Linked DNA regions of Homo sapiens: all the other regions are linked to region 2. The links come from fine-mapping of genetic effects on gene expression. A gene starts in region 2. Each other region holds a variant in brackets. All regions are shown on one strand. Distances are between the middles of the regions. Region 1 overlaps PIK3CB (phosphatidylinositol-4,5-bisphosphate 3-kinase catalytic subunit beta). Region 2 holds the start of PIK3CB (phosphatidylinositol-4,5-bisphosphate 3-kinase catalytic subunit beta). Region 3 overlaps PIK3CB (phosphatidylinositol-4,5-bisphosphate 3-kinase catalytic subunit beta).

Evidence for each region. PIP is the estimated chance that this variant, and not a neighbour inherited with it, causes the effect. A credible set is the group of variants that fine-mapping cannot tell apart.
Region 1: its variant is the best candidate, but not a certain one, in a credible set for the expression of PIK3CB in monocytes (Quach 2016, PIP 0.72).
Region 3: its variant is the best candidate, but not a certain one, in a credible set for the expression of PIK3CB in whole blood (INTERVAL, PIP 0.85).

What each region holds. Positions count from the first base shown.
Region 1 is chr3:138,810,340-138,813,098 of GRCh38, forward strand. The region is part of intron 1 of PIK3CB (phosphatidylinositol-4,5-bisphosphate 3-kinase catalytic subunit beta); the gene reads right to left. Among named protein-coding and RNA genes, the nearest start is that of PIK3CB, 23 kb to the right of the region's middle. The variant C/CT (reference allele first, on the strand shown) is at 1,093.
Region 2 is chr3:138,833,168-138,835,926 of GRCh38, forward strand. PIK3CB (phosphatidylinositol-4,5-bisphosphate 3-kinase catalytic subunit beta) reads right to left here and starts at 1,761. Exons shown (of 24, transcript NM_006219.3): 1 at 1,528-1,761. RefSeq lists a silencer at 1,258-1,997.
Region 3 is chr3:138,784,370-138,787,128 of GRCh38, forward strand. The region is part of intron 2 of PIK3CB (phosphatidylinositol-4,5-bisphosphate 3-kinase catalytic subunit beta); the gene reads right to left. Among named protein-coding and RNA genes, the nearest start is that of PIK3CB, 49 kb to the right of the region's middle. The variant G/A (reference allele first, on the strand shown) is at 1,311.

The sequences.
Region 1 (2,759 bases), 23 kb before region 2:
GTATAATATGAAAAGGAGAGGGAAAGAGTAACTTTATAGCAGGGAAACCTAACAAACTACCTCAGCCAGCTGATCAAGGACAACATCAACAACGATAATTCATTTTTTAGTATATACTTTTGATATCATGTCAGAAAAATGGCACTTTACTTCCGTGGTCTTCCTCGCAAAAACCCGTAATTCCAGTCTAATCATTAAAAAAAAAAAAATCAGAAAAACTCAATTGAAAGACATTATGCAAAACAACTGACCAGTATTCCTCAGAACTGTCATGGTCATCAAAAACAAGAAATGTTGGGCCGGGCATGGTGGCTCACGCCTGTAATCCCAGCACTTTGGGAGGCCAAGGTGGATGGATCACGAGGTCAGGAGATTGAGACCATCCTGGCTAACACCGTGAAACCCCAGCTCTACTAAAAACACAAAAAAAATTAGCTGGGCATGGTGGCAGGCGCCTGTAGTCCCAGCTACTCGGGAGGCTGAGGCAGGAGAATGGCATGAACCCGGGAAGCGGAGCTTGCAGTGAGCCGAGATCGTGCCACTGCACTCCAGCCTAGGCGACAGAGCGAGACTCCGTCTCAAAAAATAAATAAATAAATAAATGTCGGCCGGGCGCGGTGGCTCACACCTATAATCCCAGTACTCTTGGGAGGCCGAGATGGGCAGATCACAAGGTCAGGCGTTTGACACCAGCCTGGTCAACGTAGCGAAATTCTGTTCCTACTAAAAATACAAAAATAAGCTGGGCATGGTGGTGCGTGCCTGTAATCCCAGTTACTCAGGAGGCTGAGGCAGGAGACTCGCTTGAACCTGGGAGGCGAGGGTTGCAGTGAGCAGAGGTTGCAGTGAGCCGAGATTGCACCACTACACTACAGCCTGGGTGACAGAGCAAGACTCTGCCAAAAAAAAAAAAAAAAAAAAAAAAAAGTCTAAGACACTGTCATGGCACCACTAAGGACAACTAAAAAATATTATTGTGGGAAAAAAATACATAATTGGTAAAATTGGAATATAAACTATATATTAGGTAACAATACCAATGTTAAGTTTTCTAAATGTGGTAACTATACTATTGATATGCAAGAAAATTAC[C/CT]TTTTTTTTTTTTTGGCAGTGTCTCACTTTGATGCCTAGGCTGGAGTGCAATGGCGCAATCTCGGCTCACTGCAACCTCCGCCTCCCAGGTTCAAGCGATTCTCCTGCCTCAGCCTCCTGAGTAGCTGAGATTACAGGCGCCCGCGACCACACCTGGCTAATTTTTGTATTTTTAGTAGAGACGGGGTCTCACCGTGTTAGCCAGGATGGTCTTGATCTCCTGACCTCATGATCCGCCCGCCTCGGCCTCCCGAAGTGCTGGGATTACAGGTGTGAGCCACTGCACCCGGCCCTGATATGCAAGAAAATTTCTACAGATAAACATAACAATTTAGATGGATCTTCAGAGAATTATGCTGACTGAAAAAAAAAACAGGCTAGGCATGGTGGCTTATGCCTGTAATCCCAGCACTTTGGGAGACCAAGGCAGGAAGATCACTGGAGCCCAGGAGTTCAAGACCAGCCTGGGAACTGTGGCAAAACCTTGTCTCTACAAAAATTTTAAAAAATTAGCTGGGTGTAGTGGCACATGCCTGTAATTCTCAGCTACTTGGGAAGCTGAGGCCAGAGGATTGCTTGAGCTCAAGAGTTTGAGGCTGCAGTGAGTTATGATCGTACCACTATGCTAAAGCCTGGGCAACAGGGCAAGACCGTATCTCTAAAAAAAGAAAAAAGCCAAACTCCTAGATGATTTCATTTATATAACATTCTCGAAACGACAAAATCATAAAAAACAGATTAGTGGTTGCCAGAGGTTAGAAAGGGTGGGAGGGAGGTGACTGGGGCTATAAAAAGGTAGAATGAGAGGTTTTTTTTTTTTTGGGGGGACAGAGTCTCGCTGTCACCCAGGCTGGAGTGCAAATGGTGCGATCTTGGCTCACTGCAACCTCCGCCTCCTGGGTTCAAGCGATTCTCCTGCCTCAGCCTCCCAAGTAGCTGGGACTACAGGCACGCGCCACCACTCCTGGCTAATTTTTGTATTTTTAGTAGAGATGGGGTTTCACCACATTGGTCAAACTGGTCTTGAACTCCTGATCTCGTGATCCGCCCACCTCAGCCTTCCAAAGTGTTGGGATTACAGGCATGAGCCACTGTGCCTGGCTTTTTTTTTTTTGAGACGAAGTCTCACTCTGTCACCCAGCCTGGAGTGCAATGGTATGACCTCAGCTGACTGCAACCCCTGACTCCCGGGTTCAAGCGATTCTCCTGCCTCAGCCTCCCAAGTAGCTGGGATTATAGTCATGTGCCACCACGCCCAGCTAATTTTTTGTATTTTTAGAAGAGATGGGGTTTCACCATGTTGGCCGGGCTGGTCTCGAACTCCTTACATCAGGTGATCCACCCACCTCAGCCTCCCAAAGTGCTGGGATTACAGGTGTAAGCCACCACACCCAGCCAGAATGAGAGACTCTTGTAATGGAACTATTGTGACTTTACGGTGGTGGTGGTCACTCAAATCTATATATATAATAAAACTGAATGACCTAAATACACACTGAAATAAGTGAATGTAAAACTGGTGAAATGTGAGTAAGATATATGAACTATAGCCAAGTCAGTTTCGTGGCTGTGGTATCTTTCCATAGTTATGCAAGATGTTACCACTGGAGTATTATGGGTAAAGGATAATGGATTCCTCTGTATTATTTTTTACAACTGCATGTGAA
Region 2 (2,759 bases):
GGGATTCTCCTGCCTCAGCCTCCCAAGTAGCTGGGATTACAAGCGCCCGCCACCACGCCCTGCTAATTTTTGTGTTTTTGGTAGAGACGGGGTTTCACCATGTTGCTTGGGCTGGTGTCGAACTCCTGGAATCAATTGATCCGCCCGCCTCGGCCTCCCAAAGTGCTGGGATTACAGGCGTGAGCCAACGCACCTGGTCAGAAAAAAGACTTTACTTTCTTCCATACCTGCATTCTGAAACTGGGTTAAGATCCTTATCTGACCACCCTTTCCTGTGCTACATTATTATGACTTAAACAGTTCTGCTTTTACCATAAAATCTTACAATGTAGCATAAAAATCCCCAAATGATTAATGAACTGCTGAGACCTCTGACTCGTTGGAGACAATTTTATTACGAATCATATCTCCAAACTTCCATTCAGTGCTTCAAAATAAGTACTCATTTAATTATCATGACTTCACCAGACAGTCACACTGCCCACAATGATGTTTACAAAAGCACTTGTCACTCCCTTTGGATGTAGCAATGCAGAAAAAAGAGTCTGTTTCCATACTCTTCGTGTGTTTATAACTCTGTAACAAGTGGCAGAGTTCAAGTGTCACTTGAGATGAAACAGCAAAGCACTTCAAGTTTACGTCCCACCATCTTTCATCCTAAGCGAATCCCGAATTTGCTCGGTTTCATTTCAGCAGTAATTCCCACTCAGTACCTGAGACAGGGTTCCAATTCAGCCCTGCGGGAAGAGACTGCAGGATTCTAGTAAGGGACTATAGGATTCTATTTTGGCCACTGCGAGGTTAACAGGCTCCAATATTAAGCAACTCCAGTATCGGTTACTGCAACACCAGAGCAGATCGGAAATAAATGTGCCCCCAAACGCACGCCAGCAGCCAGGAATTAGCAATAGCTAACACGAGATGCTGCAGCAGGGGTATCATTTACTTAGCACTTGTTCAGTTATGCCTAACCTCACAACAACCTTATGGTGTATGTATTATTATTTCCATTTAACACATCAGGATATTTTGGCCCAAGGCCCCAGGACTGGTCAGCAGCGGCGTTGGGATTCGAAAACATGTCCATAACCTAATAACCCTGGGTCCACGCCTCTGAAATACACTTCTGCGCAAAAAGGCACCTGAGGGTCGGGAAGTTCCGGAGGTGTCCGCATAGACGCGGGGCGCGAGTACGCCGTCTCTCCACAGAAACGCCCCTCAGGAACGGGACCCAAAGCGACAGTGACCCGGGACGCCCGGCAGCGTCTCTGCCGCCCAGGGGCCGGGGGGCGCCACTCACCTTGGAGAGCCCAGGGCGGGCCGCAACCAAGCCAGACGCCCCCACCGGCCGGTAGGCGGTTATCCTCCAAGCTGGCAGGAAGCGCGGTGCAACCACAAGAGTCGCCAGCGCCGCAGGTAGCGGCAAGCTAGAACGCACCGCCAGCACGCCCGGGGGCACCGCAGCCGGCGCCGCGACCCAGCCGCCCCTCAGCCGCGCCGCATCCGGGTCCCGGCCGCCGCACTCACCTGCCTGGCGTTCCGCCGCCGCCGCCTGCTACTATTCCAAGTGCGCAGTCAGCAGCCCAGGCCGCCGCAACCGCTCCACTCCGGCGCCCCCATCCCTGCCTCTCTCGATCACCTCCCGCCTGCCCCGCGCAGCACTACACTCGCCCCCTCCCCACTGCCATGGCCCGCTCCGCCGCAGCGCCGCACAGGCCGACAGAGCACGCGCGCGCCGCCGCCGAACCCGCGCCCGTGTGCGCGCGCGCCAGCCTCTCAGGCCTGCATCCCAGCAGCCCCCGCCCCGCCCTGCGCCGCCCTCGGGCCAATCCCGGGCCCCGCGGTGGCGGCGGCGGCGGCGGCGGCAGTTGGGCTGGCAGGGTGTGGGGAGAGGCCTCACTGCCGATTCCTCTACCGTTGCCAGCCCGGCTGCGACGCTGCTGCACGGCCTTTCCTAACTCTCTTTGCGACTCCCAGAGGACTGCGGAATAGGGAATCCCCGGCAAGTCGCCTTCAGGAGAGACCCATCACCCGCTGCGGCCTCCATAACCTCCTCCCGAGAGATTCCGCTCTTCCTAGGTTCCTTGCTGGCCTTTTCTTCCCAGCCCTTCTCCCTGTTCTGCGACATGGACTGACTCCTAAATTCTTGGACGCAGCACTTATTTTTTTCCCGATACCCGTCTCCGTCTTTCACTCCCTTTGTGAGGATAGGGCGCTAGCTCGGCTGCCTCACAGCTGGCCCTTCAGTCCCTACACTGTGAATGGTTGTTTCTAGGGAAAAGTCCAGGCTTTCAAGCCCAAGATTCTTGTTCTTTGTTCAATTTTGCAGTAACAACACCTAACATTTGTCTGCAGAGCCTTAAACTTTACCCCTTTTTGCCTACCTTGTTTCCTGTTACCTTTGACCCCAACCGCGAAAAATCACAGTCCTCTTTCTAGTGGGACACTTAAATTTTACTTACTGAAAACCAACATTTTAACTCACTCCAAAGCTAGTATATTCTAACGTAATGCTCCTATATTACCCTGGACAAATAGTTGAGTAGTCAGGGATAAAATCTAGAAGTACAACATAATAAAAAGCAAACGTGACAAATCAATTAAGTGACAAACCAATAGTTTATTTGAGAAATGATCCTAGTTTTTTTATTTTTTATTTATTTACTTATTTTGAATGAGAGTTTCGCTACTGTTGCCCAGGCTGGAGTGCAATGGCGCGATCTTGGCTCACCGCAACTCTGCGTCCCCCGGTCAAGCGA
Region 3 (2,759 bases), 49 kb before region 2:
AGACTCTGTATCAAAAAACAAAAAAAGGCTCTCCCTCTCCCTCCCCCTCCCCCTCTCCCTCTCGTCTCCGTCTCCGTCTCCCACTTTGCACGGTCTCCCTCTGATGCCGAGCGGAGGCTGGACTGTACTACCACCATCTCGGCTCACTGCAACCTCCCTGCCTGATTCTCCTGCCTCAGCCTGAGGAGTGCCTGGGATTGCAGGCGCGCGCCGCCACGCCTGACTGGTTTTTGTATTTTTTGGTGGAGACGGGGTTTCGCCCTGTTGGCTGGGCTGGTCTCCAGCTCCTGACCGCGAGTGATCTGCCCGCATGGGCCTCCCGAGGTGCTGGGATTGCAGACGGAGTCTCGCTCACTCAGTGCTCAATCTTGCCCAGGCTGGAATGCAGTGGCGTGATCTCAGCTCGCTATAACCTCCACCTCCCAGCCGCCTGCCTTGGCCTCCCAAAGTGCTGAGATTGCAGCCTCTGCCCGGCCGCCACCCCGTCTGGGAAGTGAGGAGCGTCTCCCTGGCCACCCATGGTCTGGGATGTGAGGAGCCCCTCTGCCCGGCCGCCACCCCGTCTGGGAGGTGAGGAGCGTCTCTGCCCGGCCACCCCGTCTGAGAAGTGAGGAGCCCCTCCACCCGGCAGCCGCCCCGTCTGGGAAGTGAGGAGCCCCTCCGCCCCGCAGCCGCCCCGTCTGGGAAGTGAAGAGCATCTCTGCCCAGCAGCCGCCCTGTCCGGGAGGTGGGGGGCAGCCCCCGCTCGGCCAGCCGCCCCGTCCGGGAGGGAGATGGGGGGCAGCCCCCGCCCGGTCAGCCGCCCCGTCCGGGAGGGAGGTGGGGGGCAGCCCCCGCCCGGCCAGCCGCCCTGTCCCGGAGGGAGGCGGGGGGAAGCTCCCGCCCGGCAGCCGCCCCCTCCAGGAGGTGGGGGGGCGCCTCTGCCAGGCCGCCGCCCTGTCTGGGAGGTGTACCCAACAGCTCATTGAGAACGGGCCATGATGACGATGGCAGTTTTGTCGAATAGAAAAGGGGGAAATGTGGGGAAAAGAAAGAGATCAGATTGTTACTGTGTCTCTGTAGAAAGAAGTAGACATAGGAGACTCCATTTTGTTCTGTACTAAGAAAAATTCTTCTGCCTTGGGATGCTGTTAATCTATAACCTTACCCCCAACCCCATGCTCTCTGAAACATGTGCTGTGTCCACTCAGGGTTAAATGGATTAAGGACGGTGTAAGATGTGCTTTGTTAAACAGATGCTTGAAGGCAGCATGCTCCTTAAGAGTCATCACCACTCCCTAATCTCAAGTACCCAGGGACGCAAACGCTGC[G/A]GAAGGAAGCAGGCAGGGCCCTCTGCCTAGGAAAACCAGAGACCCTTGTTCACATGTTTATCTGCTGACCTTCCCTCCACTATTGTCCTATGACCCTGCCAAATCCCCCGCTCCGAGAAACACCCAAGAATGATCAATAAATACTTAAAAAAAAAAAAAAAAGAAAATGCTTATCTGAGGATATGACATTCACATGAATGTTTAAGGTGAAAGTTTTCATAGTAACAAAAAACTAGGCATAATCCTAATGTACATTAATAGATCAATAAATAATAGTTTACAATAGGAAAAATGAATAAAATACAGCTACACACATCACCATTAATGAACCTTACCAACAATGTTAAAAGAAACAAAAGAATATATATAGCATGACCACATTTACTGGAGTATATGAAGCAAGACTCCATCTCAAATAAAATAAAATAAAAGTAAAATAAAATCAGGCTGGAGCTTCCTCATTTTCCCCAGTTCTCTTCACAGTGTTAAAGAAAACAGTCTCTCCTGGGTGCTCAGAAGCAGCAGAAAGAGAGCTCCAAAGGTTGCTTTAAAAATGTCTCCTCACAAAAATTACAGATTTGTAGTCATGAGCTATATATAATAATCTCCATTCACTAATAATCCTTAAAACTTTGAATAAAAAGTTTAGGTCCTTTTTGAAAATAATGTGATTTTCTATTTAATTTTTTTTTTAAGATGGAGTCTTGTTCTTGTCACCCAGGCTGGAGTATAATGACGCGATCTTGGCTCGCTGCAATCTCTGCCTCCCAGGTTCAAGCCTCAGCCTCCTGAGTAGCTGGGATTACAGGCACGCACTACCATGCCCAGCTAATTTTTTGGATTTTTAGTAGAGATGGGGTTTCACCATGTTGGCCAGGCTGGTCTCGAACTCCTCACCTCAGGTCATCCACCCACCTCGGCCTCCCAAAGTGCTGGGATTACAGGCATGAGCCACCGTGCCCAGCCTGTATTTAAATTTTAAATACTATAAGTTTTATAAAATTATACTTAAAATGTACTATACTATGCATAAAACTGGTAATCCTCCACATAAAACTATTTAATAACATGTGACTATTTAACATGGTTTAAAAAACAGTATTGAGACCAACAAGGCAGCCATTTATATTACCCTTTATGTACTACTTCCTCTATCATGTGGCAGTCAAAAGGCTAAGTGAAATGCTTGCAGCAAAGAAAACAGTTTTGAAAGGTCATGCTATGCAGACAGCCAGAATTTCTTTCACAATATCCTTACTGTCTATGGCAAACTGCATGACAATCTGACCACAGTTATTTTCTGTGTAAAAGTAAAAAGCACACCACATTATCAAAGGACCAGAAACAGTAAGCACTCAACAATATCATCTTTATGAACATTTTTTCTAACTGCGTAAACATCCATACATATTAATGAAAAAGAACCCCGAGGCAAAGACAATGAATTGG